Regions from separate parts of the Homo sapiens genome. Here regions 2, 3, 4, 5 and 6 are each reported to be linked to region 1. Evidence: microRNA targets listed by miRTarBase, many of them from high-throughput screens and not tested one by one. Region 1 holds a microRNA gene; each other region holds the end of a gene's coding sequence. Distances are from middle to middle.
The links. The annotated mature microRNA hsa-miR-216a-3p reads UCACAGUGGUCUCUGGGAUUAU and lies in region 1 at 2,627-2,648, shown strand. An mRNA with a match to its seed (bases 2 to 7 or 8) in the 3' UTR can be bound and repressed. Matches are read on the target gene's strand: a 7mer-m8 pairs with bases 2 to 8, a 7mer-A1 pairs with bases 2 to 7 and ends in A, and an 8mer does both.

Region 1 (5,360 bases):
GAAAAAGTAATTGAGTTAACCAAAGGACATAGGAGTAAAATTAAAACAAAATAAAATTAGCATTTATGGAGAATCTGTGTATCAGATTCTGTACTAGTTAGACATTTTCACAAACACCACATTTAGTTCTTAATCTCATGCACAAGTATTACCAACACAGAAACTGAGGCTCCAAGAAATAAAACAATTTGCCTTAAAGCCCACAGGTAGTTAAGTATTAGAACCAGGAGTCACACCAAGGTCCACTTCACTCCAAAGCTCATGTGCTTCCCGACACCCCACACACCATTCCACAGCCAAGATAGCTGCAGGAAGGGGTAGTCCTCCAGGTTTTCAGAAGATATCCAAATAATTACAGCTTTGAATAAATAACACTAGTCTTCAGGGAAATAGGAAAATTGCCACCATCTGAACAGACCCAATGACCAAACTGAAATTTATTACTCTCAAATACAAATCTATAGAGAGTCTCTAACAGAACTAAGATCACAAATGCATACATTGCGGTGCACCCAAAATATGCATATAGAGACATCTTAGATAATATCCTCAGAATACTTGAACAGAATGTATAGATAGTGTTAGAAACAGCTTACTCCTTGATACTTTGCTACTGTATTTCAGTTTATCTGGCCTGTGGACTATCTATCCACATTAATATAGCTTTGTTGCCAAAACAACTTTGTATCAGTTTCTTCCTTTTTCTTTTTTAAATGCCCATCACAGCAACCCACTAAGGTAGGCAAGGCAGAAACGTATATGTCTTTGCTTCCATTGAGAGCCCACCTCCCTGTGCAGTTGTGGACATGACAACTTAAGATTAATAAAAAGCTGTCTCATCTTCCACATCAGCATATGATGTTCCCATTTATGATCTTTTCTTAATGTTTTCTAGCAGAGGGAAGAAGAACTACATACTCCTGTCACTTCTCTATGGTAACTTTTCACTATTAAACTTTCTAGAGAGAAAGGAAAATCAAATATAAGATTAAGAGAAAAGAAAAAACTGAACGTCATTCATGTTGCTCTGAGAAGCCCTTGTTTTTTGATTAAGATAAAATCTGCTTATTTTTAATCCTGAGCAATTTGACTCCAGAAAATAAACTTAGAACAATATTTAAAAAGTTAAATCCTAATGATGAGACATTCTTATTTTACAAAAGTAGCTTTGTACTTAGGAGTCCATATGAGGCACAAGATTATATTCAATTGTTCTTTCTCAATTGTTTTGTAACTTTATATTTACCTGACTTTTAAAACGAAAAGCCACTTTTCTAACTCTGTAAATTACCACTCTCTTAATTGTGTCAAGTCTCAATTATTAAAGGACAAGTTATGAGCTGAAATCCATAATTCTTTGCTTCAACAAACATTTGATTTAGTTTGACAAAATTTTTTTGAGCACTTATTAAACATCAGATGCTAAACTGAGAATAGTATAGTTGAGGATATAGAGATGAATAAGCACAGTGCCAACACTTGGAAGTTTGCAGTCAATGAAGGAGAAAGCATGTGAGTGAGAAAACACCATTGTGTATTACAGGTGCCAAAAAAGGGAGACTGGGGAGAGAAGGCAGTGTGTGATAGTTTTCAATGTGTGACTGTCACACAAGGGGGTGTGTGTGTGTGTGTGTGTGTGTGTGTGTGTGAAAGAGAGAGAGAGGAGGGAGAGAGAAAGAAGAAATAATTCCAAGTATGGGCAAACACAGCTCATTGGATTCTCAGAACTTGTTAGAGCTGGAGTCTACAATGTAGAGGAAGAAATGGTCTAGTATGAAGTGAAGCTGGAGAAAGGCAGTGGAAAATCTCCACCGAAGTGCAAATCGCAGCCACCAAAACCAGACCTACTGAATCAAAATATAGAGGTAGGTCCTGGGGATCTACATTTGTAACAAGTTTCCTATGTGCTTCTTACACTCACTCAAGTTGAGATGCCATCCACGGCAGATGGTGGGGAAACTCTGAGGGCGTTTCCTCTTCCTTCCGTTCTTAATCATTATTCTTACCATTGATTAGCCCCACCCAGTGGACTGAGGGGCTTAGATCATGGCTCAGTCTCACTTAGCCATGACAGTGATGTGGGCAAGAGGGGAGGACATACCACCATCTATGAAAGGTAATAGCCACCGCTATTGACACATCTGGCCATTTGGTGAGTATACGGTCATTACTTTTTCAACGTAATTGCTGGTTTTCTTGTCTGAGGACAAATTTTAGAGTGTTTGGCTTTGATGTTTCCAAGTTCTCTATAAAGCTTGTTTAAAAAATCATTTTTAGTGATTGGTTTTACATTCACCTGTACTCCTACTTGGCTGTTTCTTACTATATATGGATTAGAGTAAATCCTTTCTAAATGCAAAGATTATACTTTTATGACATTACATGCAATATAGCATATGCCAGAAATCTGTGAATTCAGCAAGAGGAGTAGCTTGATAATGTCGCCTCAAGAAAAATGCAGAGGGGTACATCAGGGCTTCTGCTGGTGCACTCGATGTATGAAGATGTGCTTCCACCTGAGGCAGCCACGTGCCTCTGCTCATACACTTTCTCTTGCAGGTCTAACACGGATGGCTGTGAGTTGGCTTAATCTCAGCTGGCAACTGTGAGATGTTCATACAATCCCTCACAGTGGTCTCTGGGATTATGCTAAACAGAGCAATTTCCTAGCCCTCACGAATCAAAAGACTTGCATGGCAACCAAAATTAAACACCAAATTTCTATTTCATGACCAAGACGGGGGGAAAAGTTTCGATGGTTACTGTTTCATGCTCAACCTCTTTTAATCTTAGTAAAGTCTTTTTCTAAAGTGCTGTTGTGCTGGAAAGGAAACCAGCCTTGGGAATTAATTTGCCTTTATTGGATTCGCTTGCTACTTACTGCGCTCCTTCAGTGCTACTTGGTTTTTTAAAAAATTGCAGCCAAGGGAGTTTGGGTGTTAGAAGCTGAACCCAAAATATTTTCCCTCTGAAAGCTCCTCCCACTCTCTTTGTGGGTGCTACTCCATCAAATTCCAAACAGTCTAAAAGAGGACGATCTCCTGCCAGGCCCTCCTCAAACTTCAACTCCCCAGATTATCACATTTAATCGCCCTTCCTCATTCCTTCTGTAAGTGTTTCACATTCATCTGCCCTAAATAATATTGAAATTTAGAATCAACTATGGCTTAGGCTGAGGTTGCCATGAAACTTTTGAGCTGTACCCAACTCTAATTCTCGGTGATCCCTGGAAACAGATAATCCTTTTCCATAAAAAGAATAAGAACAAATGTAATTCTTCAGGGTGAAAAATCAAGGCCAGTTATCTTCCTCATTCACCCAGTAACACAAAACAAATCAGATGAACCAAATTTATAATTAAATGTGGGATAACTTTAACAACAAAAATTATTAAAATGCTATTTCCAAGGTCTTGACTGGCACATATCCCCTCAGGTATCCTCAGAAAGAGAAGTCTGTATATCTCAGTTTGATTAAATTACATTTCTGGGCCGGGCGCAGTGGCTTACGCCTGTAATCCCAGCACTTTGGGAGGCTGAGGCAGGCGGATCATGAGGTCAGGGGATCGAGACCATCGTGGCTAACACGGTGAAACCCTGTCTCTACTAAAAATACAAAAAATTAGCTGGGCATGGTGGCGGGCACCTGTAGTCCCAGCTACTCAGGAGGCTAAGGCAGGAGAATGGAGTGAACTCAGGAGGCGGAGGTTGCAGTGAGCCAAGATTGCGCCACTGCACTCCAACCTGGGCGACAGAGCGAGACTCTGTCTCAAAAAAAAAAAAAAAAAAAATTACATTTCTGTATCAAGGCACATTAGTATGACCTATTAGATTTCCTTGCCAGAAATTGATGTTGAGCAGTAGGAGGTAAGTTTGAGAACTAGTTATTCACATACTAATAGCACAAATACTGAACCATAAGCCAGGAAATAACTTACCTCTGGTAAGGAGAGGGCTTCGTATTAATTTTCAGGACTCATTAAGGGCTCTTTTAAGCTGCTGCTGAAACTTTCTAAATGTTGTCTGTATCCTCCTGCTAGTTGAAATAATCATTTTTTCAAACATGAAAAAATTCCCAATTCCAATTTTTGGTGACCATTTTTCAAAAAGGGAAGAAGATAAATGTAATTAAACAGAGCAGGAAATATTTTTTGAAGAGCTGAGTACATATGATGCATCAGGAACCATGCTTGTTGCCTTGCTTGTGTGTACACTCAGTGCACTCTTGCAGTCTCCAGATGTTCCCAGTGCTCTCTGCACATAGAGGCACAGGGAGCTTTTGAAAATGTCAATATCAAGGGCTGTGCCACTGATAAATCAGAATGCCTGGGATGGGATCTGGGCATCTCTGTTTAAGAGGCACCCAGGGGATTGTAATGTGCAGCCAAAGGTGAGAATCACTGTATTTGAGCTCAACAGGGAAGCTGTGGTTGGAGTGCAGTGAGAAAAACTGGAAGGAGAGGATTAGAGGGTATAGCTAGGTAGACTATGGTAAGAATTTGGGGTTTTAGTGTGAGGGACTCCACAAGCAATTGGAGAGTTTTAATTAAAGAAGTGGCATGACTTATTTACCAGTAACACAGTTTAATAGACTTTTCTTAGAATCTAACCATGTATAAACTTTAAAGAAAAATAGTTATTGTGGACTGCAAATAACTTCCTTGTCATTTAACTTTAGGAATGTAAGACCACAGGATAGGCAGATTCCAACCAAGAGGAAAGCTAGTATGAAAGAACAAAAAGGAAATTAGCTCAGAAATCAGGAGCCCCAACTCCTTTAGGCAACAGCTTGAGTCACTGTTTCAAGAAAAAAAGAAAATCACTTATCCTTTCAACACATAGATTCTGACTTTTCTTTTAAAGCTTAATAATTTTAGAATTACATCCTGGTAGTAATTAGCATCAAAATAAGTGAAGGATTTGGCATCTCTGTCAATGAGACATTCAAAATATCATTTGTTAGACTGGGTTTATGCCAGTCTTCAGTAAAAATAGAGTACAACAGGATTCCCACCCTTTTAGTAAAGAGGCTCTGTCTTGCTGATGACCGAAGACCTTGTTAGGGCTCCTGGGAACTAAGTCCTCAGCATTCCTAGCTCATCATCTCATTCACCAGCACCTAGAGCGTGGCACTTATTATCCCTTTTCCACCTGTACCATGAAGACTATGAAAGTCAAGGTGCAAGCAGCCGGCCTCTTAATCAGAGCAAACAAGCAGAACCTACTGCCAGTCCGCAGGACTAGACCTTAGATGTCTGCTGAATCTGTGATCCTGAGCTTTTGTTGAAAACCTGAATTATATTTCTGCCTGGTAAAGATGGCCCCAGGCTCCAAATGTTTGTCTTCTGTGGAAATCCAGAT
Region 2 (5,360 bases), not on the chromosome of region 1:
CCCGAGTAGCTGGGATTACAGGCGCCCACCATCACACCCGGCTAATTTTAGTAGAGACGGGGTTTTGCCATGTTGGCCAGGCTGGTCTTGAACTCCTGACCTCAGGTGATCTGCCCACCTTGGCCTCTCAAAGTGCTGGGATTATAGGCGTGAGCCACCGCACCTGGCCCAGTGGCCCTTTTTACAAGAGGAGCTGGGTTGGAATTAGAATGTTCAGGAGGCAGGAAAATTCTCTGGAGGTCTTGCTGACCATAACAAATATTCCTAAGTAGCTACCTGCTCCTTGACCAATTCTATAGATGCAGAAACTGAGGCTCAGAGACTTGCTTTTATATATGAGGGCCACAAAGTCAGTTGCTTCAGTGGTGAAAACATTTCCCATCGGAAGGAGCACAGAGTGTGGGTGCAGCCACTTGTGTGCATGTGACTGACGTGGCCAGAGCTTCCGATTTTTCAAGAGGAAACAAAAATTTAGATTTTAATGTAATAATGAACAGCTACCTCAATTTCTGTTTTTTTTGAGACGGGGTCTCCCTCTGTCATCCAGGCTGCAGTGCAGTGGTGTGATAACGGCTCACTGTAGGCTCGACCTCCTGGGCTCAAGCGGTCCTCCCACCTCAGCCTCCCGAGGAGATGGGACTCCAGGCACACGTCACCACGCCTGAATAATTTTTTAATTTTTTGTAGAGATGGGGTCTCACCCTGTTGCTCAGGATGGTCTCAAACTCCTGGCCTCAAGCAGACCTTCTGCCTTGGCCTCCCAAAGTGCTGGGATTACAGGCATGAGTCACCGCGCCTGGCCGCTATCTCATTTTTAAGGAAGGAAAAAGGGTTCAGGGTCCTCAGACCGCAGCGTTACACCCACAGAACCTTCCCTAAATCACTGCCCTCCCGCAGCCTCCTCAGAGAGAGGTGGGGTTGGCTAGGAGTCAGAACGCTAGCCCGTGCCAGTTTCCCCATATGTAAATATTCGGGGTGGACTGAGCCACTCTGAAGCTTTCTTTTTTTTTTTCCTTCTGAGATAGAGTCTTGCTCTGTCTCCCAGGCTGAAGTGCAATGGCACGATCTCGGCTCACTACAACCTCTACCTCCTGGGTTCAAGTGATTCTCCTGCCTCAGACTCCCGAGTAGCTGGGACTACAGGCCTGTGCCACCATGCCTGGATAATTTTTGTATTTTTAGTAGAGACGAGGTTTCATCATGTTGTCCAGGCTGGTCTTGAACTCATGATCTCAGGTGATCCACCCACCTCAGCCTCCCAAAGTGCTGGATTACAGGCGTGAGTCAGAGCACCTGGCCCACTCTGGACTTTCTCAAAGCTCATGTGCCTGTCCCCTGAGTCCTCCCCCTCCCACACTTACCCCTGGTCTGTCTGTCCCCCCAGGGCTCACCCTTCAGAGGACAATGACTTTTACATCAACTACAAGGACATCGACCTGGCTTCCCAGCCTGTCTACTGTAACCTGCAGTCACTGGGCCAGGCCCCAATGGATGAAGAGGAGTACGTGATCCCCGGGCACTGAGCCTAAGATGTCCTAACCTCCACCCAGAACCCCTTCAGTCCCTGCTGGGTGACTCAGGGCGTCCTAACGCCTCCATGGCCTCAGTTTCCCCATCTGAAGAATGGGTACAGGAAAGGATTGTCCTTGAGGCCCCAGGAAGCTCTGCCGCCCCCTCCCTGTCCCTCATGCCGCTCCTCAGCTCCCTCAGCTCCTAGAGGGGGAAGAGGAGAGACCCCCAACAAGGGGACAGGACGGTCACTGTGCCAATCCTGTCATCACCCTCCTGTGGATGTACAGGCAGTGCTCAATAAATGCTTCGAGGCTGATGAGGCTGCTGGCTCAGGGTGCGTGGGTTCCTCAAGGTGGGGATTTCTGAGTTCTAAGACCAAGTCTCCATCTGAGACTCCCAAATTGCTCCCCACCTCCCATCCCTGTTTTTTTTTGTTGTTGTTGTTTGTTTGTTTGTTTTTGAAACTGAGTGTCACTCTGTCACCCAGGCTGGAGTGCAATGCTGCGGTCTCAGCTCACTGCAACCTCCGCCTCCTGGGTTCAAGTGATTCTCCTGCCTCAGCCTCCTGAGTAGCTGGGATTACAGCACCCGCCACCATGCCGAGCTAATTTTTGTATTTATAATAGAGATGGGGTTTCGCCATGTTGGCCAGGCTGGTCTCGAACTCCTGACCTCAAGCGATCTGCCCGCCTCGGCCTCCTGAAGTGCTGGGATTACAGGCGTGGCCACTGCGCCCAGGCACATTCCTCCCTTCTGCCCCTCTCAGGGCCCCTTCCCAGGTCCCTGATCTCCAGGCTTGGCCTCCAGAGCAGCCCACACCAACCCCAAAATAAAAAAATGTATATATTCCTTTAGCTCTAATATTCTGAGAAAATCTTTCAAGACCCTGGTGCAATGCCACCTCCTTTGAGAAGCTGTCCCTGGTTTCTTCTCAGGCAGAGTTAATGACTCACAGATGTCTGTATTTCAAGAGTTTTTTCAGGCTCATGCCTCAACTGGGTTTCCTATCAGCTGGTCCCAGCCCAATCCTCCAACCTGGGGGAGATAGAACTAGAGACAAGTACCCTCAGTCCTGGGAGATCAAGCCTGGGCCAAAGGGAAGAATGGGAGCACAGTCCCCACATGGAGACAATTGAATGAGTTTGAATAAGGCTGCATGTAAGAGGGGAATCTGCAGTGGGTTTTGAAGGATGCATAGGAGTTTGAGAATTGGAGAGGAAAGGGCATGCTGGCTGGGTGGACCAACTTGTGCAAGAGCCTGGAGAAGCACAGAGAAGGCACAGGCCCAGCCCTATACCTTGCAAAGGCAACAGCTGTTGTTTGGGGAAAGACTCAGTGACACCATCTGCTGCCTTTTGGTATTGAGTTTAATTTTGAAGCCTCCTAGGTGCCCATTTTCAACAGCTTTGCTGTGACTGAAGTGAGCCTGCTCCCATCTCAGGGCCTTTGCACTTGCTGTTTGCATTTACTTGCAATGTCCACCCTCAACTACCCCCTCCCCGACTCCTTTTCTTCCTCCAGGTCTCAGCTCAAATGTGACCTCCCTCCCCAGGGAGGCCTCCCCATCCAACTATCTAGATCACCTCTGCCTCCGTTCACTAATGAACTGATGGGTTGAATCCCCAGCACAAATCTTACTGCAATCAACTACTTTCTTAGGATTTACTCATTTGTCCCCTTCACTCAACCAGGCTCCGCAAAGTGGGGTGGTCCTTGTGTGTCTTTTTACAGCTGTGTCCGGGGCCTGGCATAAAGTGGGCACTCACTGAATACGTTAAGGGGAACCTGCAGTCATTCAGGTTGGCCTGTGGGTGATGGCATTCCCAGCAGATACACCTCACTGCTGGAAGTGGGTACTCTGTCCCTCAAGACACCCATCGCCATTCCTCTCAGAGATTCAGGATGGGCAGGCAGTTTGGTGTGGAGAGGGGGCTGGACTCAGCACACCTCAAAATTCCAACATCCTAAACAGGAAGTATATATAACCTGGGAGATGTGGTGTGCATGAAAATATTCTTCACAACTTATTTGTTTCTCCCTACTCTTTATATGTGAAAGAATGAGGTGTCACTAACATGGAAGTGCCACAAACAGGAGGGGTGATGGGACTAACCCCTCAGGTTGGGGACAGTACCACAAAACAAGGCACTTGGTTGCAGATAGACTTGGCTCTGAGCTGCCTGTGTTTGGAAAGGTGACTCCCAAGTGGGGAGAGCAACAGGATGGTGATAGAGACAAAGACAGAGACAGATCCTCTGCCTCAGACCCCAAAGAGAGAAGTTTTGAGGAATGAGGAAAGATGGAGGGAAGCTGAGACTTAAAAAGGTATGGGGTCTCAGCTGTTTCCAAAACAGAAACACCAGCCTGGGCAACATGGCGAAACTCAGCCTCTACAAAAAATACAAAAGTTAGTTGGGCATGATGGCATGCACTTGTAGTCCCAGCTACTCAGGTGGCTGAGGTGGGAGGATCGATTGAGCCCGGGTGGTTGAGGCTGCAGTGAGCTGTGATTGTGCCACTGCACTTCGGCCTGGGCAACAGAGTGAGACCCCGTCTAAAAAAAATAAAAAGAAAAAAGAAACAGCAATAAGGAGATAGAGAAATAGAGACAGAGAGTCAGGGAGTCAGGAATGGCCAAGGCTGCCCTTAGAGCCCACAGGTGTCGTAAGCACCTTCCAATGGCTTGGCATCTCCGAGAACACCTTGCCACTCATTCCTTGAGCCTTTCCACTTACCCCCTCCCAGGTCTCCTAGAGAAACTGAGGTCAGGGAGAGGAGGATCTTCTCAAGGTCACCTTCCCTTATCCTGGACACCACAGGGAACAGTTCAGACAGCTTTATTTTTATCACCAGAGTTTTAAATAAATACACAGTTCCATCAGACCAGCCCCCGAGTCCCCAAGAAGGTCACCCCAATAAATTAATAATAAATAACAGACTTATATAAATACAGCTGTTTGGGCAGGAATCGGGTGTCTCAGGAACCTTGAGCCCATTCCACAGGGCAGGACAACTGAGGTCGCGTCCTCCGCGCAGGTGCACAGTGGAAGGACCAGGACTGCTCATATGCAGTGGCAGTCTTTGGCTAACAAGTCATCATAGGTCTGGAGCGACACCCCGGTGTCGGTCTTTTGAATGAGCACCATGGGATTGTAGCTGGCGGGCACGCAGCAGGGCGCTGGCACCGTGTCGGGCTTCAGGCGGTGCAGGCTCGTCTTGATCTGCGCGTGCATGTTTGCCGCCCGGAACTGGCTCGGGCACGCGCCGATGCACATGGTCACTTGCACCTCCCGTGGCGACAGCACCCAATCGGCCCAGCCCAGGTCTTCCAGCGACGCGCGGACCGTGTGCAGACGGCAGCAACGCCCGGGCCCGAGCGGACAGTGGTCCCCGTTGCGCGCACGCGCTCTGCGGCGCCCCCTGGCGGCTTGCGGCCGCAAGTGCAACTCCAGCTGGGGCCGTGCGGACGAAGATTCTGCCAGCAGTTGGTCCGACTGCGACGGCGGCGGCGACAGTCGCAGGTGCAGCGCGGGCGCCTGGGGTCTTGCAAGGCTGAGCTGACGCCGCAGCGGTCGTGTCACGTCCCACGACCTTGACGCCGTCGGGGACAGCCGGAACAGAGCCCGGTGAAGGCGGGAGGCCTCGGGGAGCCCCTCGGGAAGGGCGGCCCGAGAGATACGCAGGTGCAGGTGGCCGCCGGATCCCAGCCGCACTGTGGGAAGACAGATAGGGAAGCTGGTCACCCACAGGCCTACCGTTTTCCAGGAACGAGGGTGCCCATTTCCCCTAACACGCCAAGCTGGATCTCACCACGGCGGCGGCGCCTTTGCACAAGTTATTTCCCCTAC
Region 3 (4,974 bases), not on the chromosome of region 1:
TCAGATATGATGAAAGGCTGGGTTGCTAGGCCCTTGGGCTGGCTGGGCACTGTGTTGCCAAGCCAGGGGGCTGAGGAGCATGAGGGTGGTGTCATGCTCACTCATTCATTCAACAAATATTTATCCAGCACCTACAACATGCCAACCACTACTCTACATGAGCAAAACCAACAAAAGCCTGCCTTTGTGTAGTTTACATTCTATGGGTGGGGACAGAAAATAAATAAGTAAAATATATTGGGTGTCAGGTGGTGATAAAAGAAAGCAGGAATGGAGCACGGGGTCCAGGCTGAGGGTGAAGTGTGCAGTTTTAAATGAGGTGATCAGGGAAGATGACGTCTAAACAAAAACCTGAAGGAGATAAAGGAGCAAGTGAGGGCAGCACCTGGAAGGAGATTGTTCCAGGCGGCAGGAGAAGCCCTGCAAGTGCAGAGTGTTAGGAGACACCTCTGTAGCGCGTTGAACAATGAGAACACGTAGACAGAGAGGGGAACAAGACATACCAGGGTCTGTGGTCGGGGAAGGGGTGTGGCGAGGGGAGGGTGAGCATCAGGACAAACAGTTAATGTATGCGGGGCTTAAAACCTAGGTGATGGGTTGATAGGTGGAGCAAACCACCAGGGCACACGTATACCTATGCAACAAACCTGCATGTCCAGCACCTGTATCCCAGAGCTTAAAGTTAAAAAAAAAAAAAAAGAAAGAAAGAAAGAAAGAGTTGAACAATGAGAACACATGGACACAGGGAGGGAAACATCACATACCGGGGCCTGTTGTGGAGGTGGGAGGCTGGGGGAGAGATAGCGTTAGGAGAAATGCCTAATGTAAATGACGAGCTGATAGGTGCAGCAAACTAACATGGCCCATGTATACCTATGTAACAAACCTGCACGTTATGCACATGTACCCTAGAACTTAAAGTATAATAATTAATAATAATAATAATAAAGAAAAATGTAAGAAAGAGAGAGAGACACCACTGTAGACAGCCACACAGAATAAGGTGTTGGGAGATGGCAAGAAAAGGCAGAACCATACACAGGCTGGTGCCTAGTCTGGGCCCCAGGGCCTGAAGTGGGGTCAGAGATGAGAGAAGCCAAGTTAAGGATGAAATTGTAACCTCAGGTGAGACAAAATGCTAGAAAGCAGACAAACAGAAAGCTGGAAAATGTTGAGATGCCACTGGAGGCCGGCTCCAGAAGGAAGCAGCTGAGTCTGCAGTTAGATGAATTAAGGGAACATTGAGATTCCTCACAAGGCTTGGGTGGTGGTGGGTGCAGCCAGAAGAAGGTGAGCCCAATGGCTGAGCCCCTCTCAAATACAGCTGGTGTCTCCCTTGAAAATAAGCTGTTCCAGGTAAAGGGGATAGGGCCACTGAAAGCATCTTGGCCCGTGTTCAACAGGACAGTGGTGAAGGGCATGAAACTGCTGGGCATCAGCTCCCTCTCAGCCCAGGGTCCATACACAAATGTTCCACCTTTTATTCCCCACACTTCCATTTCCTGAGCACTATGTGCTAGCATTCCCCATGCAAAGTGCTTTCCAGGGTTCATCTAATCCTCACGGCAACTTCACGAGGAAGGAATTATCATCTTCAGCTTACAGATGAGGAGCATTGCCCTGCCACCCACCACCACCTCTGTCCCCTAGTCCCTTGACAGCTTCACTTCTTGCTGAGCCTAGAGCTGCACAGGCTCAGCCAGGTTCAGAGCCAGCTTGATTGGATGCAAATCCCTGCTTCTCCCTTAATTGCTTTGTGGCCCTGGGCACATTCCTTGGCCCTTCTGAGACCAGTATCCTCATCTAAAGACAAAATGGGGAACACATTACAGTAATATCCACCTCCTGGGCGTTTGTGAGAATCTTCTGGGAGAAGGCAGTGGTTCTCAGCGCTGGCACTGTAACAAATGGCATTTCTCAGAGTTGTGAGGCGTGTGGCCAATAATTTATAGCTATAAATAGTTAAACCAGGGAAGGTGGCAAACGGCTTGTTGTTTTAGTATACATAGCGAATTCAATGTTTTCTCTGCAATGACATCACTCTCCCTGACTAGCATTCCACAAAGCCTTCCTGAATGAGAGATAAAGGATCTAATCCCCTGGGAATTTGCCCATAGGCTGCAGCCTATCTTATCTGTGCCACAGCCTGTGGGAGTGCAGCAAGCAAGCAAATACAGTCTCTCCCGAGGTGTGGTGTGGCAAGGCTAAGCGTGGTGTGGGGATGAGGCTGACAGCCATGGCTATGAAGAATTGGCATTGGGCCTCGCCCCTAGTGGGTGCTTTTTGGAAGAGGGAGCCTCAGAGAAGCAGGGGAACAAAAGGGGAGAGAACAAAAGCTCTGGATACAAACCTGTTTCCCTCAGGCACAGTGTTGTGGCTTTCTCCTCCTAGGAGACAGAGATACCCTCAGGTAGAAAAGGGGAAAGGGGCAAGGAAGGCCAGGCCTCTGGGTGAGGCTGATGGGGCTGGAACTTAATGTCAGACTGGCCCAGCGTCCCTCAAATTCCCCCTGGGGAGACACAGAGTCTGACTGGGAAGCCTTGGGGTAAAGGTAACACCTAGTGGTTAGAAACTATGGGTGGGGCTCCCAGCACTTTGGGAGGCTGAGGCTGGGGAGTTGGGAGATGGCAAGAAAAGGCAGAGCCATGAGGTCAGGCAGATCGCTTGAGCTCAGGGGTTCGAGACCAGGCTGGCCAACATGGTGAAACCCCATCTCTATAAAAAATACAAAAAATAGCCAGGCACGGTGGCTCACATCTGTAATCCCAGCACTTTGGGAGGCCGAGGCTGGCAGATCACCTGAGGTCGGGAGTTCAAGACCAGCCTGACCAACGTGGAAAAACCCCGTCTCTACTAAAAATACAAAAAAATTAGCCAGGCGTGGTGGCACATGCCTGTAATCCCAGCTACTCAGGAGGCTGAGGCAGGAGAATCGCTTGAACCTGGGAGGCGGAGGTCGCAGTGAGCCGAGATCATGCCACTGCACTCCAGCCTGGAGAACAAGAGCGATCATGCTACTGCACTACAGCCTGGGTGACAAAGCAAGACTCTGTCTCAAAAAAAAAAAGAAAAGAAAAAAAAAGAAACTGTGGGTGGAACACTCATGCCTCGGTCAAGGATAGGTGCTAGAGACAACCTGACCCAAAATTGATGATCATGGCCCAAGGCCACACCCTAGAAAGGAAGTTTTAGTCTCTCCCAGGCACTTAGTTCACAGGTGCTTAGGATCAATCAACACGGCTTCTTCCCTCCAGCGACCACCACCAACTCACTCCTGCTCATTCCCCAGCTCTCCACGTTTCCTCACCACTGCAACCCCCACCCTCACCACTCCAACACAGACCACCTCACCCCAAGCCCGCCTGAGGGACCTCTCACCTGGAGACAGCTTCACTTGCCAGGACTGATGGCTGTGCCAGCAGCCAGCCCCACCCTCTCAGTGACTGAGAAGCTGTTCCAACTGTAGAGGCAGACCCAGCCAAAGGCAGCAGGCAGGATTAGCCAATTCCATTGACTAGAAAGGGCCTTACTTCCCTGTGGACACTGCCTACATAGTCTGCATTCAGCTGTGAGGTCCTGTCCCCTCTCAATTCCAACCTACACCACCCCCCAAAGCAAGTGAGAATGAGGATGGGGAGGAAACTCAAGACAGGGGTTAGCACTGCAACCTCTCATCTCTGCCCTCCTTCCTGTATCACTCACTGCACTTTGCCCAGTATTCCTCCCTTCCCCACAGTGGCACAGTGGCCCCAGACACAGCCAGAGTCCATTCAAAAATGACAAATTCTTTATTTAAATCAACAAACTCATCTTCCTCAAGCCCCAGACCATGGTAGGCAGCCCTCCCTCTCCATCCCCTCACCCCACCCCTTAGCCACAGTGAAGGGAATGGAAAATGAGAAGCCACGAGGGCCCCTGCCAGGGAAGGCTGCCCCAGATGTGTGGTGAGCACAGTCAGTGCAGCTGTGGCTGGGGCAGCAGCTGCCACAGGCTCCTCCCTATAAATTAAGTTCCTGCAGCCACAGCTGTGGGAGAAGCATACTTGTAGAAGCAAGGCCAGTCCAGCATCAGAAGGCAGAGGCAGCATCAGTGACTCCCAGCCATGGAATGAACGGAGGACACAGAGCTCAGAGACAGAACAGGCCAGGGGGAAGAAGGAGAGACAGAATAGGCCAGGGCATGGCGGTGAGGGACTGAGGCCCCTAAATTTTGGTCCCAGGGGAAAGGAAGAGGCCAGTTGGTCCAGTTTTGATGGCTATGGGGAAGGGAATGTATTAGTAAGCATGGGGGAGAGGATGCCAGCAGGCACCTCAGAGGTGACAGGACAGGCTGAACCCCCCACCCTGACAGAAAGGAGCTTGAGAGCTCTGGGGCTCTCTGGGAATGTCACTGCTAAAATATATATCTACATATATATTAACCATTCGTGGGAGGGCAGGGGCAAGGCCTGGGGTGGGATCAGAGGATCTGGCGTGGCATCCCGTAGCCAGTCATGCCTGCCTGAGACGCCCCGCGGTTGGTGCCCATCTGTAACCCGATCACGTTCTTGCCCTCTTGCAGCTGGTTATCCGAGAAGTTCCGAGGATTCTCCTTGGATTTCCTGGGTGACAAGGGAGTGGTGGTTAGAGGAGATCACAGGCTGCCCTAGTAAATCCCTTCCTTGGACAGAGCACAGGCTTTGCTGTTGGCTCAAGGGCTGGTGCCAGCTCTGCCCTCGAGAGCCATAAGCTCTCTGAAGCCACCTCCTCATCTGTCCAAAGGGACAGTCATTTGCCATCCCAGAGGGTGTTGTGAGGATTAAGTGAGATGAGGAATTTTCTGAAAGTGCTTTGTAAAGGGCCAGCTGCTACTGAGATAAGTTATTTCCTAGGGACAGGATTGGGCAGAAACAATGCACCTGCTGGACCCTGCGGCTGTCCCAGCAATACTTACTTAGGGAACCAGTTGGGATCCCCAGAGAAGAGCCCATCATCT
Region 4 (5,360 bases), not on the chromosome of region 1:
CCGCCTCTGACCCCTGCCCTCCGCACGTTGGTGAGCCGAGGGAGGGAGGAGCCTGGGGGGAGCTGGAGGAGGGGCTGGGTCTGAGGGGGACTGAGGACCCTCCACCCTCTCTCTCTCTGTCTCAGATCTCTCTTATCTGTCTACAGACCTCTCCTGCTCCAGTGGAGACCCTCAGTTCTCTGGGGACCCAGCCTAACCATGTCCCACTGTGGAGCAGTGTGGCCCAGCCTGGTCCACCAGAGGCCTTCTATGTGGAGAGGCCTCCTTTTCCCTCAGTGTCCTCTCCACACATCTTTTGGGCCCCCAGCTCCCACGGGTTCTTCTGGGCCCCACAGTCTGGGCCTTGGGTATCCCTTGGGGCTGTTCCTCCCACGCAGCAGGCCTCCACCCTAGCACATCTGGGCTCTACCCTCGCGCCCCCGGCTTCCCTGGCCTCCACCCTCGAACCCCCGGCCTCCACCCCAGCTCCCCTGGCCTCCACCCTTGCACCCCCAGCCTCCACCCCGGCTCCCCTGGCCTGTACCCCTGCACCTCCAGCCTCCACCCTCGCATCCCCAGCTGTCCCCCAGGGCCTGCCCATCCCTGACCCAAGCAGCTGTGCCCAGCCTAAGAGCCTGGGGCCCAAGTCTCGGAGGAGCAGAGCCCCTCGCCCAGAGGCTGCCGAGCAAGTCCCTGCAGCTGGCCAGGGACCTGGCCCTCAGCTCAGGGGTGTCCTGGGCCAGGTAGTGGCAGCTCGGCTGTTCCCTGACAGCCTGGAGGACACGCCTCCTCACTTCGAGGGCCCCCCTCCACCCAAGGCTGGATCTCCGAAAGTCCAGGCCACACAACCCCAAACCAAGGTCACTCCCCCTCCATCTGAATCCCAGTGTCGGGCCAAGGCCGAGTCTCTGAAAGCCAAGGCCTTGCCGCCCGCAGCGGGGTCAGTGATACGGAAGAGCGAAGCCACTCCTTCCCCTGGAGCCTGCCTGCAGCCCGAGGTCCCACTCTCTCCAGCTGAGCAGGCAACCACAGTCAAGGCCTCGCCGCCAGCCTTCCAGGTGGGGTCTCCGGAGGCCCTGGCCCCGCCCCCGCCCGCTGCTGACCACGCCCCCTCGGAGGCCCTGCTTGCCCAGGCCGCCCTGCTGCTGCAGGCTGCAGAAGGTGATGCCCGCGCCCTCCTGGATGTTGGAGGCAGGCCAGCCCCCTAAGAGGCCGGCCCCTTGGAGCTCATTCTTTTCTCCCCGGCCCAGACTCCGACGGCAGCGAGTTCCAGGACGATCCCGTGCTGCAGGTGCTAAGAGCCCATAGGGCAGAGCTGAGTCGGCAGAAAAGGTGACCGACCCTCCATCCCCAGAGTCTATGACACTGGGCCCCGGAGACCTCTGAGACCCGGTTAGGCATCCAGCCCTCCTCATCCCCTGTCCCAGCAGTCCGTCCACAGCCCCAGATTCTAAGCCTGAGCACATACCCCAGCCTCTGCTCTCCCGGCCTTTCTCCAGGGAAGCGGATGCCCGATTATCGTTCCTGTTGGACCAGGCTGAAGACCTGGGATCTTGGTCCCCTCCAGCCGGGTCGCCCCCTAGGTCCCCAAGGAGGCTGCTAAGAAGGGAAGGAGATTCCCTGGAGGCCAGAAGACTTTGAATTGTACAGATTCTATTTTACCCAGTGAGGCTCTTTTTTTTTTTTTCATACAGTTACTGGTTATCTGTGAGAAAGGGGTTGTTTGGAAAGGCCAAGGGGTCATGCCAATTTAAGGAAATGCCCCCCATCCTCCGCTGCCCCATGGCTCTGCCCTGCCCCCCACCCCTTCCTGACCACGGAAACAAGATCTCCTTTCTGGTTATATCTTCCTTGGGGCAGAGGGAGTTTCAGACAAGACTTCTGGCAAGACTGGGACCCACCTTATCTGGCTTCACTCAGGAGCCCTGGCTCAAATGGACCAAAGGACTGCCCTCCACGGAGGAAGCTACTAGGGTCATCAGAGTGTTGGATGATGGTCAGGCTATAGCCCACACATGCTTGAGCAGCAGCAGCATCTGGTGCAGCTGACCCCTCCCTCCTTGAAGCACTTTCTCTCCCTGCTTCCAGCCCTTCTCTCTGCACCTCTCTGGTCAGGCCTAGTCACTAGCCCAGCATGTCAACTTTGGCATGACCCAGGGCCATGGCGTTGACATCTCTATCTGCACCCACCCATAGGTGCTCTTGTCTAGCTTAATGACTCTAAACCCCGTCTCTATTCTGATAATCCTCAAATTTCTGTCTGTAACCTAGACCTGGCCACGAAACCTTGGGCTCCTACCTCATTACCATTTCTACCCAAGGGTTTAAAAGACATCTCAAATTCCATAGGTCCTAAATGGAGTTTCCAATCTTTCCCCCTAGGCGTGCCTCTCCCCAGCTTCTTTTTTTTTTTTTTTTTGGATGGAGTCTAGCTCTGTCACCCAGGCTGGAGTGCCATAGTGTGATCTCGGCTCACTGCAAGCTTCGCCTCCCGGGTTCACGCCATTCTCCTGCCTCAGCCTCCCGAGTAGCTGGGACTACAGGTGCCCGCCACCACGGTCGGCTAATTTTTTTTGTATTTTTAGTAGAGACGGGGTTTCACTGTGTTAGCCAGGATGGTCTTGGTCTCCTGACCTCGTGATCCACCCGCCTCGGCCTCCCAAAGTGCTGGGATTGCAGGCGTGAGCCACCGTGCTGGGCCCCCCCTCCCCAACTTTCTTCGGCTCTGTCCTTTGCCGCTCAGACCAAAAACCTTAGAGTTGTCTTTGACTTCTGTCTTTCCCTTCCACCCACAGTTAACCAGGAAATCCTGCCATCTCCGCCTTTATTTTATTTTATTTTTTGAGATGGAGTTTCACCCTTGTTGCCCAGGCTGTAGTACAATGGCATGATCTCGGCTCACGGCAACCTCCACCTCCCGGGTTCAAGCGATTCTCCTGCCTCAGCCTTCTGAGTAGCTGGGATTACAGGCACCTGCCACCACGCCCAGCTAATTTTCTTTGTTTGTTTGTTTGTTTTGAGACAGAGTCTTGCTCTGTCCCCCAGGCTGGAGGGCAGTGGCACGATCTCGGCTCACTGCAACCTCTGCCTTGCAGGTTCAAGCTATTCTTCTGCCTCAGCCTCCCTAGTAGCTGGGACTACAGGCGTGTGCCACCACGCCTGGCTAATTTTTGTATTTTTAGTAGAGACGGGGTTTCACCATATTGGCCAGGCTGGTCTCAAACTCATGACCTCGTGATCCTCCTGCCTCAGCCTCCCAAAGCGCTGGGATTACAGGCATGAGCCATCATGCCTGGCAATTTTTTGTATTTTTAGTAGAGACGAGGTTTCACCATGTTGGCCAGGCTGGTCTCGAACTCCTAACCTCAGGTGTCCCACCCACCTCAGCCTCCCAAAGTGCTAGGATTACAGATGTGAGCCACCGCACCTGGCCTCCACCTTTAAAATCTATCCAGAATTCAACTGCTTCTCCCCTTCTACTGCTCACACCTCAATCTAGGCTGTCATCACCTCCTCTCTGGACTGTTGGAAAACTTAACGGTTTTTATAAACCTGATATTCTTTGACACACTTGCCATCAAGAGGCAGAGTCTATGTCCCTTCATCTTGAAACTGGGCCCCTCAACAAATAAAATGCAGAGGAAGTGATGCAGCTTAACTTCTAAAGTGCAGTTAGAAAAGATGATTTCTCAGCTGGGCATGGTGGCTCACGCCTGTAATCCCAGCACTTTGGGAGGCTCAGGTGGGCAGATTACTTGAGGTCAGGGGTTCAAGACCAGCCTGGCCAACATGGTGAAATGTCTCTACTAAAAATACAAAAATTGGCCAGGCATTGGTGGTGGGTGCCTGTAATCCCAGCTACTCAGGAGGCTGAGGCAAGAGAATTGCTTGAACTCAGAAGGCAGAGGTTGCAGTGGAAAAAAAAAAAAAGATAATTTCTCTCTCTTTCTCTCTCTCTCTGACACTTGCTTTAGAGGCTACATTAAAAAAAAAAACTAGTTGCCATGCTGGGGAGGGGTTTGGGTTACACAGGTGTATGCACTTATGAAACTTAGTGAAGTGTGTGAATTTCATTGTATGTAAAGTTTACCTCAAAAGAAAATATTGAACGCCAGTTAAAGATACGCCTGTAATCTGACTTCTTTGGGAGGCCAAGGCGGGAGGATCACTTGAGGCCAGGAGTTTGAGACTACCCTGGGCAACACAGCAAGACCTGTCTCTACAAAAATAAATAAGTAAATAAATAGCCAGATGTGGTGGCACACGATTTGCAGTCCCATTACTAGGGGCGGGGAGGGGCGCTGAGGCAGGAGGTTTACTTGAGCCCAGGAGTTCAAGGCTGTATTGTAGTGAACTAAGATCATGCCACTGCACTCCAGCCTGGGCTACAGAGCTAGACCCTGTCTTTAAAAAAAAGAAAAGAAAAAAAAAAGTATGTACACTGAAATATTTAGGGAACAATAAACCAATGTCGACAATTTATTTTGAAATGCATCCAGAGATGAGTTGGATTGATGGATAAATAGTGTAATAGGTAGATGTGAGATAAAGCAAATACAGCAAAGTGTTCATGGTAGGATCTAAGTGGCGGATATGCGGGTGTCCACTGTAAAATTTTTCAACTTTGCTGTAATTTAGAAACTTTTCATGGCCGGGCGCGGTGACTCATGCCTGTAATCCCAGCACTTTGGGAGGCCAAGGCGGGCGGATCACGAGGTCAGGAGATCGAGACCATCCTGGCTAACACGGTGAAACCCCGTCTCTACTAAAAATACAAAAAATTAGCCGGGCGTGGTGGCGGGCGCCTGTAGCCCCAGCTACTCGGAAGGCTGAGGCAGGAGAATCACTTGAACCTGGGAGGCAGAGCTTGCAGTGAGCCGAGATTGCGCCACTGCACTCCAGCCTGGGTGACAGAGCGAGACTCCGTCTCAGAAAAGAAACTTTTCATAATAAAATGATGGAGAATATATGATTGGGGTTGTTTTGATATCTGCATTTACAAAATGGAGGGATAAGATGGATTTCTAGTAACTTCTGTATGTCACATGGTAAATATAATATTTGTTTTCAACCTTTCTTTCTTTCTTTTTTTTTTTTTTTTTTTTTGAGATGGAGTCTTGCTCTGTCACCCAGGCTGGAGTGTAGTGGTGCAACCTCGGCTCACTGTAACCTCTGCCTTCCAGGTTCAAGTGATTCTCCTTCCTCAGCTTTCCGAGTAGTTGAGATTATAGGTGCATGCCACCTCACCTGGCTAATTTGTGTGTGTGTGTGTGTTTTTAGTAGAGACAGGGTTTCACCATGTTGGTCTGGCTGGTCTCGAACTCCTGACCTCATGATCCACCTGCCCCGGCCTCCCAAAGTGCTGGGATTACAGGTGTGAG
Region 5 (5,360 bases), 32 Mb from region 1:
AGGCTAAACTAATTCCAACTGGCGAATTTAAAGAGAGTGATGGGGTGAGCACTTTGGCGGGAGTCCGGGCAGAGCAGGTAGCAGGTAATTGGAATGAGTTAGGGTGGAGCAGGTGATCAGAATGAGTCAGGGTGGAGCAGGTAATTGAAAAAGGTTGCTTTACGAGGAAGTTTGAAAGTAGAAGCCAAATAATTGAACATACTGACATATCCTTTGAAAATAAATGTAGAACTCTTATCTAACAGTCCCATACAAGGGAAGGCTTGTTATCTTTCGACTTTTTCATAATAGCCAACCTAACAGGTGTGAGGTGACATCTCATTGTGGTTTTGATTTGCATTTCCTTGATGATTAGTGACGTTGAGCACCTTTTTATATACCTGTTGACCATCTGTACATTTCTAGGGAGGCAGGAAGGAGGCTTTGGAAAAATCTCTGTTCAGGCTCTGTCCTCATTTTTAAATTGGGTTACTCACTTTTTTGCTATTGAGGTGAATGAGTTCCTTATATATTTTGGATATTAACCTTTTATTTGATACATGGTTTGGAAATATTTTCTCCCTTTCTGTAGGTTGCCTTTTTGTTCGCTGTGCAGAAGCTTTTTAGTTTGATATAGTCCCACTTGTTTATATCAGATCTTAATGTGACTGTGGTCAGTTCTACCCTTAATGGTTGGGTGGGCTACACTAGTAGACCCAAGTGGACTGAGGTTTAAATGCAGTAGCAGTTAAGTTTTGCTTATGTCCTGGCACTGTCCCAGTGGGTCAGCAGGCTGTCCCTCTCGGTGCGGTCTTTCGGATCCTATCTCATGGGCCTGTGTCATCTTCAGCACCTGGCTTCCGAGGTTGCACTGGGAACTCATTCCTATCAACCTGAAAAGGGAAGAGATCGTGGATGAGTTCTTCCTGGGAGTCAGGTGTATGTGGGCCGGGCTGGAGGCGGCATGTCATTTCCTCTGATGTTCCCTGGGCTGGACCCAGTTCCATGTCTGTTCCTAACTGTAGGGTGAAGGAGCATGGGGAAAAGTATTCCATGGCTGGTCTGCCTACAATGGCAGGAGAGCATTTTGTGGACAGCTGGTCATCTCTGCTGTACATACCACAAAAAGATTAGTTATTTGTGGAGTTCAAAGATACAGACAGCCTTGTCTGAGAGTTGGCAGGAACCAGACAGAGTGAGAGAGAGAGAGGTAAAGCAAGAGGGCCGGCTGGAAACCTGCCTGAAACGGGAGTCTTAGCTCCAGCAGGAGGGCTGAGTGTGGGGCAGAGTCAGCGGGGGTCCTCGCTGCACCTGTAAGCCCCGCATCCCTGCACCACACTTAGTCCTTCTCTTCTGTCACTAGGTTTTAGGAACCAGACAGCAGAGACCCCGTTCCTGGGCTGCTGGGGACAGCCAACAGCACAGGGGTCCCCAGCCTGTGGGAAAAAGAGTGATGACAGCTGAGGTGCTGGGGCAGCACCTGGCCTCCCTGCAGAAGGTGGCCAGGCAGGGCCACCCTTGGTACTGAAGCTTCGTGGACTTGACTTGGCAGTGTCTGTACAGCAGTTAAAATACTCTAAACATATTTTCTTCCTCCAGAAGTGGAAATAAATTGCAAGAAATACCCAAATCACAGGAGTTCTTATTTATTGAGCTCCTGTTGTGAACCAGGAACCCTGTGAGGTACTTTGTTCACTGAAAAGTTTTCGCAGTAAGATAGTATTATCCTCTCCCAACACACAATGCTCTGAGGCTTGGTGAGCTGCTCAGAGGTGGCAGTCCCCTAGCTCAGAGGTGGCAGTGTTCTCTCAGGCCAGTCCCTCAGGTGCCACACAACACATTTATCCCCTCCTCACATGCACTCAGACTTGGTCATCAAATTGCTCACAATTTGGGTTGCCTTTTAAGAGAGCGGAGTGCCCCTCCCCGGCCATGGCACCTGTTCCTGAAGAGCACTGGAGGGACCTGCTGAGGGGGGTTCTCAGCAGAGGGGAGATGTCTGGGCGCATGAGGCACATATGCCAGGTCCTGCTGGGGTGGAGGTACATAGACTCAGGCGGTACAGAGACTCAGGCGGTACAGACTCGGGGGTATGGAGTCTTGGGGTACGGAGACTCAGGTATGGAGACTCGGGGTATGGAGACTCGGGATAGAGACTCGGGGTATGGAGACTCAGGCACACCCCACATCCTCCCAAAAGTCAGGCTTACATTTGATTTCTAAAGGGGCAGGTGTGCGTTCCTAGGCGTAAGGGGACAGCTGGAGTGGCCGGGTGCGCCGATGCTCCGTGTGGTCCGTGGTTTCATAGAGGTTGTCTGACTCTGGTCCTGATGCTCCTCTGCCCTAAATCTGACCAAAAAGTCCTGTCGTATCTAGCAGTGGAGAAATGGCACTCGCCACAGTGAGGATTACGGTCCCCGCAGCCCTGGGAACACAGGACGGTTCCGTAGCTCTCGTTCCCAGTAAGCCTAGAGCTGGTTTTGAGTCATCAGGGCAGCCTTGCTGCTGACATCAGCCAGGCTGGCCTTGTGACCAACAAGCCCCAACCCTAGAGACAGCCAGCAGTTCACTCTGCTCCGTGAGACTGGGCCTGACTACCCACTTTCCCACAAGCAAGCAATATGTTCAGTTGTTTAGGTTTCATATATCCAGTGACATCTCTTACCTTTTTTATGTCTATATTTTAACCAATCAGTGCCCAGGATCTATACCTGAGTGAGTGATGGATTTTTAAATCTGAATGTGCCGGTTCTGTTTCCCAGTCCTTTGCCCAGCAATTATGTTTAAACAGAAGCGGGGGCTAGGGTGGAGGCCCAAGCCCTTGGGACATTTGAATCCTTCCTTGTTCCTCTAGTTGCCTGGAGACCTGCTCCCTTAGAAATCAGGGCCCTAGCAATTCAAATGATTCCTTCAAAAGGACTTATCTGGCCGGGCACAGTGGCTCATGCCTGTAATCCCAGCACTTTGGGAGGCTCAGGCAGGCGGATCACTTGAGGTCAGGAGTTTGAGACCAGCCTGGCCAACATGGTGAAACCCCGTCTCTACTAAAAATACAAAAATTAGCTGGGTATGGTGGTGGGCGCCTGTAGTCCCAGCTACTCAGGAGGCTGAGGCAGGAGAATTGCTTGAACCCAGGAGGCAGAGGTTGCAGTGAGCTGAGATCAAACCACTGCACTCCAGCCTAGGCGACAGAGTGAGACACTGTCTCAAAAAAAAAAAAAAAAAAAAAAAAAGGGGGGGGGCAGATCTTTTCCCAGTTTTTACTGGGTTTAGTGTGTAAGACCTGTGTGCATTTCTTTGCTGTAAGTTACCCTCAGGTTATCACTCGATGAGGCAAGCTGAAGGAGGGTCAGTAGCTCCCACAGAGATCATCCATTTCACCCATTAAAGAAACCCAGCCCCAGAAACACGAGGTAGATTCACCAAAGTCACAGAGCAAATTAGTGGCAGAGTCAAGATGAGGCCCTGGGTCTCCTGACCTCATCCTCACTCTGTCCTTGGTTTTCCCACGTACCAGGAAGGAAACTTGGTTTCATTATAGGCAACTTGTGAAGGTACCTTTTAAGAGCCTTTCATCTGGCTGAGAAAATTAAAAAGAAAAAAAGCAGCTTTCATATAGAAAGTAAATCAGTCAGACTTTGACGAAGTTCCATCCATAAACATATGTCTTTATTCTCTTTCTGTACATATGGGCAATGATAAAGCTTAAAGATGCATGTCCTAAGAAATATGCAAAAACAATGAATTTACATAAATAATTTATACTTCAGAAAATTAAAGTTGAAAAATATTTTCCACATTATTAGAGTTCACAGTATTTAAATCAAGCTTTCCCACTTATACTCCAGACTATATTGTCTTAGCAGAGAGTGATAAAATCTAATCAGGAATAAAATGATCAAGTTTCTGTTTTTATTCAGTGCACGAGTAGACGCTATTTCAGTATCAGGCCGCGCCAAGTGTCGAGGCTGCAGCCTCTCATCCTGACCCTTCCCCTCCTGAGTGGCTGTGACCCAGCAGAGGTCACTGGCGTGGAATGGTTACAGCGTCACCAAACCACTCCACGGTGGACACATTCAACCGAGCGGTAACATCTGGTGGTCTGATGCCTCATTTCCAAGTAATACTTTTTATAGCCCTGAAAATGGAAACCTTGGCATCTAAACAAACAGAGCTGAACATGTGAACACTAGGACAAGGCACTGTACTATGGGGTTTGGTTTCTTTATGGGAAAGGTGTTTGCATAGATTGCTAGCTATTTAGTGTGCAGGAAAACAGAGCCCCCAGCGTGCATGGCTTTGTGAGGGGTGAAGCTGCATGGTGCTCCCTCAGCCCCAAGAGAGCGCAGTCTCTCATTCTCCAGCCCCAGCCTTGTGGGCTGTCCCGCTGGTGCTGTCCTTTAGAACCCCTACAGGAGAGTTTTTTGCTCAAAAAGCTGCAGGTCAAAACGGACCCAGACCTCCCCGGTGGGGACCTCATGCAGCAGCAGTCGGCGGGTCATAGGGCCTTTGCTTTCCTGTTCTGTTCGAATTTTTGCCACTGGAATTTCAGTACGACCCAGGAAATCTGGTGAATAAACACAGGAGAGTCAGAAGTCTTTCTTCTTTATAAAATCATTAAAGAGCTACATCCGGAAGAAGTGGATTCATAAAACCTTCAAATCTGAAACAAGGAACTTCTTTTGGCTCATGGCTGTTGAATGTCGTGAGTGGGTGTGTGGGGAATGATGGCAGGTTTGTGTGTGAGAAGCTGCCACATGGAATTCAAATCTCCATTCTGAGAATGCTCCAGGAGTGGTGTTCACGTCGTGTGTGTAGGGAGTGATGGGTCAAAGACCTGAAACACATCTCAGGCCACCTCCTCCCCTGAGGAAGGCCACCCACCTGCTGCCAAAGCGAGATGACACAGGCCTGTGTCACTTCCCTGAAGTGGCATGGGGTCTGCACACAGCTGAAGCCCCTAGATCTGGACTCCAGGATCTAGGAAACTGGGAAAGCCTTTAGATCCCCTGGCTGAGCGACACTTACCATCTGGTGAAAACTGGTCTCTGTCAAACAGGGTGAGACACAGCACGTCTTGGTAGAGATCCTTAATAAAGAACTGGCAGTTAAAATTCCACTTGGGATTGAGTGTGTCCTGGATGGTCCTGGTGGTGTAGCTCTGGGAGCCCATGCTGATTTCACAGTATGGGTTGCTCTTTCCTGAACAAAAACAAACCACAGACACATGTGGTGCATGCAGGTAAAACGAAGCGACTGACAGTGCCCTCCCTGAGCAGAAGCAGGATTCCAATAATGGGTCACTCGAGACCATGGCAGCAGGAGCCGCTGCCTGGGGCACCATATCCCTGTGGTCTAGTAACAGGGTCTCCAAGTTCCCA
Region 6 (5,149 bases), 80 Mb from region 1:
TCTCTTGAGTCCAGGAATTCGAGACCAGACTGAGCAACATACATTTTTTTGTCTCTACAAAAAAATACAAAAAATTAGCTGGGTGTGGTGACATGCACGTGTAGTCCCAGTTACTTGGGAGGCTGAGGTGGGAGGATTGCTTGAGCCTGGGTGGTCGAGACTGCAGTGAGCTGAGATTGCACCACTGCACTCTAGCCTGGGTAAGAGAGCAAGGCCCTGTCTCAAAAACAAAACAAAACAAAAAAAAAAACACACAACGAAAACAAAAACCACCTACAGAAATTATCACACTTAATCTCAAGACTTTAGTATTTAAATAAAAACAATACAAGCATGCCTCCATCACTGCTTTTATTCAACACTCTACTGAAGAACTAATCTAATGCAATCGGCAAATATAAGAATGAGACAGGAAGACTAAACTCTTATTTTGCCCCACACTATTCTGTGTTCTACACTTTTTAATTCCCATAATAGTCTCATGATGTAGGATTATGCAAATGAGGAAAGCTGAGGATAAGCAAGTTATCCAAGGTTATACATTAATGTAAGAGCAAAACCAGAATCTGAACCCAGGCAGTGTGGCTAACAGAATCCATACTTTTTACTGTTATGCTATCCCTTCTCACACCTCTCCATCTACCTTGAAAATACAAGATATTCAATACAAACTATTAGAAAGAGTAAGAGATCAAGAATACTGCTGCATAAAATGGCAACATATAAAAATTGATAACTGAGGCCAGGCGCGGTGGCTCACGTCTGTAATCCCAGCACTTTGGGAGGCCGAGGCGGGCGGATCACGAGGTCAGGAGATCGAGACCATCCTGGCTAACACGGTGAAACCCTGTCTCTACTAAAAATACAAAAAAATTAGCCATCTAAGAAAAAAAAATTGATAACTGATAGTGTTCTTTACCCTTGTAACAATTTAAAAATGTCACGGAAAAGATCCCAATCCTGCTACCAAGCAGAAGGGGCTCACTGCCCAATGCTCTAAGCCAATAAAATGACACTGGGTTTTTGAGAAAAGCTTTCTATTTCAAGTGACTTACAAGGAGACAGGAGTGCAGCTCAAATTGCTCTCTCTGTGCTGGTGTTAAGGCAGTGATTTTATCCTTCAGGGGGCGGATTCTGGGATTAGTAGGTGATTGGTGGAAGAGGTCTGGAAAGTTCTTCGGCATGTGTAGTTACCTCTTTATGGGTCCCATGTGCCAATTTGGAGGTAGTTAGTATAAAATATGTGGTGAAACTTTAGGCTGTAACATTAGCAAGCTTGCTGTGTAAACTCTAGTTAGCAATATTGCTTTTAACTGATTTTAGACAGTTTTGTTATAAGGGAGGGGAGTGTTAGTAAGTTGTTTTTTCTTATCTGTTTATCCTCCACACCCAAGAATTTGTTACTCAACTTTTTTTTTTTTTTTAACTCCTTGGGGCATGGTTTCATTCCCAATAGAAAAAACAAAACAAAACACTGTAAGGTGTTCTAACATAAACTGGAAAATTAAAAGCAGTTTTAATATGCTAATGTTAAGTAAAACTACAGTGAACAAAGTACTGTCTATATTATGATTGAATTCATGGGAAACATTTATTTCCGGGCTGAAGCCGAAAAAATACACAAGCTGGGCGTGGTGGCTCATGCCTGTAATCCCAGCACTCTAGGGGGCCAAGGCAGGTGGATTGCTTGAGCCCAGGAGTTCAAGACCAGCCTGGGCAACATGACAACTACTACATGTCTTTACTAAACATACAAAAGTTAGCTGGGTGTGGTGGTGTGCGCCTGCAGTCCCAGCTACCTTAGGAGGCTGAGGTAGACTGCTTGAGCCCAGGAGGTGGAGGATACAGTGAGTTGAGATCCTGCCCCTGCACTCCAGCCTGGGCAACAGGGTGAGATCTTTCAAATTTTGTTACACTGAATATTTTGTTTTCAAGAGTACTCATTAAATCCTGCCCACAAAAAAACACTAAGCTACCTCACCAGTTTCTCCCTTCATCACATGATTAGCAGATCCTTGGCAAGGCTGTTCTGACTCAGCTGAAATATCTTCAGATCTGCAAAGCACAAGGATATAGAGCTAAAATGGAAAGATATTTGCTTCCAGCATTAACAGTACTAAATTCTTTGATAATCTTGAGAATAAAATGCTGATAGGATAAATAATAACATCACACAAAAAGCAAAACACTTTTAAAGTATAAAATAAAAATGTTTTACTACAATTAAAAAAATCAATAAATGAAGAGATATACCATGTTCATCCACTGGAAGACTAAAGAGAGGGAAATTCCAAGTCTTTTCAAATTATTCTATAAATTTAAGGTAGTTCCAATGAAAATCTCAGGATTTACATATCAAATAAATCTGCAAAACAATATTAGACATTTATAGAAACATAAATATTTAGTGAAAATATAAAAACAAAAGAATAAAAGTTTGAATTCATATAATAGTTTCCTATAAGAGGGTACCTTAACTGCCCACAATTTCTTTTTTTTTTGATTTCTTTTCTCTTTAAAAAATAAAGTAAGGGCCAGGCACAGTGGCTCACACCTGTAATCCCAGCACTTTGGGATGCCCAGGCAGGCGGATCACCCCTGAGGTCAGGAGTTTGAGATCAGCCTGGCCAACATGGAGAAATCCCGTCTCTACTAAAAATACAAAAATTGGCTGGGCATGGTGGTGGGAGCCTGTAATCCCACCTACTTGGGAGGCTGAGGAGAATCGCTTGAACCGGGGAGGTGGAGGTTGCAGTGAGCTGAGATCATGCCACTGCACTCCAGCCTAGGCCACAGAGCAAGACTTGTCTCAAAAAAATAAATAAATAAGAGGTCAGGTGCAGCGGCTCACACCTGTAATCCCAGCACTTTAGGAGGTGAAGGCAGGTGGATCGCTTGAGGCCAGAAGTTCAAGACCAGACTGGGCAACATGGAGAAATCTTACCTCTACCAAAATACAAAAATTAGCCAGTCTCATAACCTGGTCTCAAAACAAATACATAAAAATAAAAAAAAATATTTGAAGCAAATATGATAAAGATTTGATAAGACTGGATAATAGGTACAAGTGTATTTTATCATGTTCTAATTTGGTCAGCATGTTTGAAAACCTTCACAATAAAAAAGATTACATCATTCTAAGACTTTACAAACTTTATTTTGAAACAAGCTATAATTACATGAAATTAAGAACAGCTCTAGGGCCAATATTATTGTACTATTTTAGGGTCTAGCAATTACACACTATAGAAGATGGATATTTTATTCTTGCTGTGGATTAAATTATGAAATACTTTTGGGGTGCCTTCTATATTTAAGGTATTCTGGTAGGATATGAAAGAAAAAAATAAGAACTGAATCTAAACTTTCAAAGACTGTACAATATAGATGGTAAACACCCCCTTTAACTTTCAAACATAATGGGCAGATGTTCGTGGTCCAGGGGTAACTTCCTAACTTTTTGACCCTCATATTTTTCTGCATGTAATTTTTTCTTCCTGTACAAAAATATGTTATGTTTTGTTCCTCCCCAATATTTGTGGTCATGTAAAATTAACATTAGCATCAACATTTGTAATAATCTAGAGGGAAAGTGTTTCTAACTAATTCTTACACAAAAATTTCTTTTTGACGGATAAGATGGGACTGGATTTTACTGACATTCACTAAGTATCAGTACCATTCCAGTTAAAAATCAAACAAAATTCTGCAATATATTTTAACCCATGTGAAATGAACTCTGTCAACCGACCCAAGCTGTCAACTTTAAGAGCTCTATCCCTACGCCCATCTAAACTAATATCCTGAAATGAATACATGTTGACAACATATTAGTCTTTATTTATATAAACTAGTTGTGTATTTTTTCTTTTACCAAATTATGAATGCCTAGCACCACTTACAAAATCAGTTGGCCACAAAGTTACACAAAAACTACAATTAGCTTTAAAATTTTATTGAAATTCAAGTTTAGAATTTAACAAATTAATACAATATTACACTGAATACTTTCTAACCAGTAGTTTAGCTTTACATAATTTCTAGGCATAACTTTTAAGAACTGATACTTTCTGGTTAATTTTCCATGATATGCCAATTATACATTCATTAAAATTTCAGATGCTACCTGAATTATTCTTATCTCAATGACAGAATTTAAAAAAATAAGTTCAAATACTGAAAATCTAAGACATTAACACTGGGGCCCTTGTAATATAGAAAAGAAGAAAAATTGTACAATCTTAACTGTTTAAAACTCTTAACGTTTACTGTAGTAACAGAATATGAATTTGTAACATAACCATATGAATTTCTCAAGTTATTTCCTACTGATGCATGTCTGAAGTTATAAAAATCTCTTTTAAACGAACCTATACTGAATTACTCCAAAAATAACAGTGATATTTTAGGGCCTTGCAAATTTATTCTAGTGCATATTTTAAGTACCTAAAGTACAGCCTGTGCACTAGCAGGTTACTGAAAAGAATAAGTGTGGCTTTCTTTTTTTTTTTTTTTTTTTGAGGCAGGGTCTCGCTCTGTCATCCACACTGGAGTTAAGTGGCAAAGTGTGAATTTAAGGAGTGAGTCGTTTGGGATCACGAGGGAACATGGAGGTCTGACGAACATTATGCAATCCCAGAAACAGCATAGTAACTCGTTCCAATCCTGGGGAAGACAAAAATAATCATTAATTCCTTTTTGAAAATCTCTCAGGGTCTTACTTAGAACTACAAACATAAATGTAATCGTTAAACTAAATACTTTTCCTTGTTAGGAAAGAAAATGACTCTTATTATTTTGGGTTTATTTAAAACTGTTTTGAGTATTGATTCAGAAATAAAGATGCTGCTATAAATGAAAAGGACTAAGTAATATATCCTTGAGTGGTATGGAGTCTAAAATGTGAACCACAAAAATCTATACGAATGAACAAAATCTATGATGTAACAATAAGAAAAACAAAACAAAAGACTTTATAAGCTTGAACGTTTCAAATGATACCACACTCTGATTATACAGTCCAGGCAATGAGGATGAGAGCCATAAACTTGCTTAAGCAATAATAGAAGTATGAGAAAATTTACTGTTAATTTTATAGACATTTAACATGGTGGACCCTACGATAAAAAGCTCTGGAGTACATTATTAT

Region 2: the mRNA of GDF15 is a reported target of hsa-miR-216a-3p. Seed matches in the 3' UTR shown: 7mer-m8 at 4,552-4,558.
Region 3: the mRNA of TAGLN2 is a reported target of hsa-miR-216a-3p. Seed matches in the 3' UTR shown: 7mer-m8 at 3,876-3,882.
Region 4: the mRNA of PROSER3 is a reported target of hsa-miR-216a-3p. Seed matches in the 3' UTR shown: 7mer-m8 at 2,579-2,585.
Region 5: miRTarBase lists ITSN2 as a target of hsa-miR-216a-3p. Seed matches in the 3' UTR shown: 7mer-A1 at 3,789-3,795.
Region 6: the mRNA of DARS1 is a reported target of hsa-miR-216a-3p. The part of its 3' UTR that is shown has no 7-base or 8-base seed match.

What each region holds. Positions count from the first base shown.
Region 1 is chr2:55,986,269-55,991,628 of GRCh38, reverse strand. MIR216A (microRNA 216a) reads left to right here and starts at 2,570; the gene lies at 2,570-2,679. All of the region lies in intron 2 of MIR217HG (MIR217 host gene), which reads left to right. All of the region lies in intron 3 of LOC105374690 (a long non-coding RNA gene), which reads right to left.
Region 2 is chr19:18,388,150-18,393,509 of GRCh38, reverse strand. GDF15 (growth differentiation factor 15) reads right to left here. Exons shown (of 2, transcript NM_004864.4): 2 at 4,334-5,224. The coding sequence ends at 4,575. It overlaps LRRC25 (leucine rich repeat containing 25), which reads left to right. Exons shown (of 2, transcript NM_145256.3): 2 at 1,385-2,373. The coding sequence ends at 1,523. Among named protein-coding and RNA genes, the nearest start is that of MIR3189, 4.3 kb to the right of the region's middle.
Region 3 is chr1:159,914,342-159,919,315 of GRCh38, forward strand. It overlaps TAGLN2 (transgelin 2), which reads right to left. Exons shown (of 5, transcript NM_003564.3): 4 at 4,933-4,974; 5 at 3,770-4,600. The coding sequence ends at 4,459. Among named protein-coding and RNA genes, the nearest start is that of TAGLN2, 8.7 kb to the right of the region's middle. RefSeq lists an enhancer at 3,576-4,465.
Region 4 is chr19:35,766,926-35,772,285 of GRCh38, forward strand. PROSER3 (proline and serine rich 3) reads left to right here. Exons shown (of 11, transcript NM_001367856.1): 8 at 1-30; 9 at 147-1,140; 10 at 1,230-1,311; 11 at 1,479-4,241. The coding sequence ends at 1,620. Among named protein-coding and RNA genes, the nearest start is that of ARHGAP33, 6.0 kb to the right of the region's middle. RefSeq lists an enhancer at 127-978.
Region 5 is chr2:24,199,238-24,204,597 of GRCh38, forward strand. ITSN2 (intersectin 2) reads right to left here. Exons shown (of 40, transcript NM_006277.3): 39 at 5,008-5,181; 40 at 3,627-4,546. The coding sequence ends at 4,389. Among named protein-coding and RNA genes, the nearest start is that of FAM228A, 27 kb to the left of the region's middle.
Region 6 is chr2:135,902,743-135,907,891 of GRCh38, forward strand. DARS1 (aspartyl-tRNA synthetase 1) reads right to left here. Exons shown (of 16, transcript NM_001349.4): 16 at 3,139-4,665. The coding sequence ends at 4,574. Among named protein-coding and RNA genes, the nearest start is that of MCM6, 29 kb to the left of the region's middle.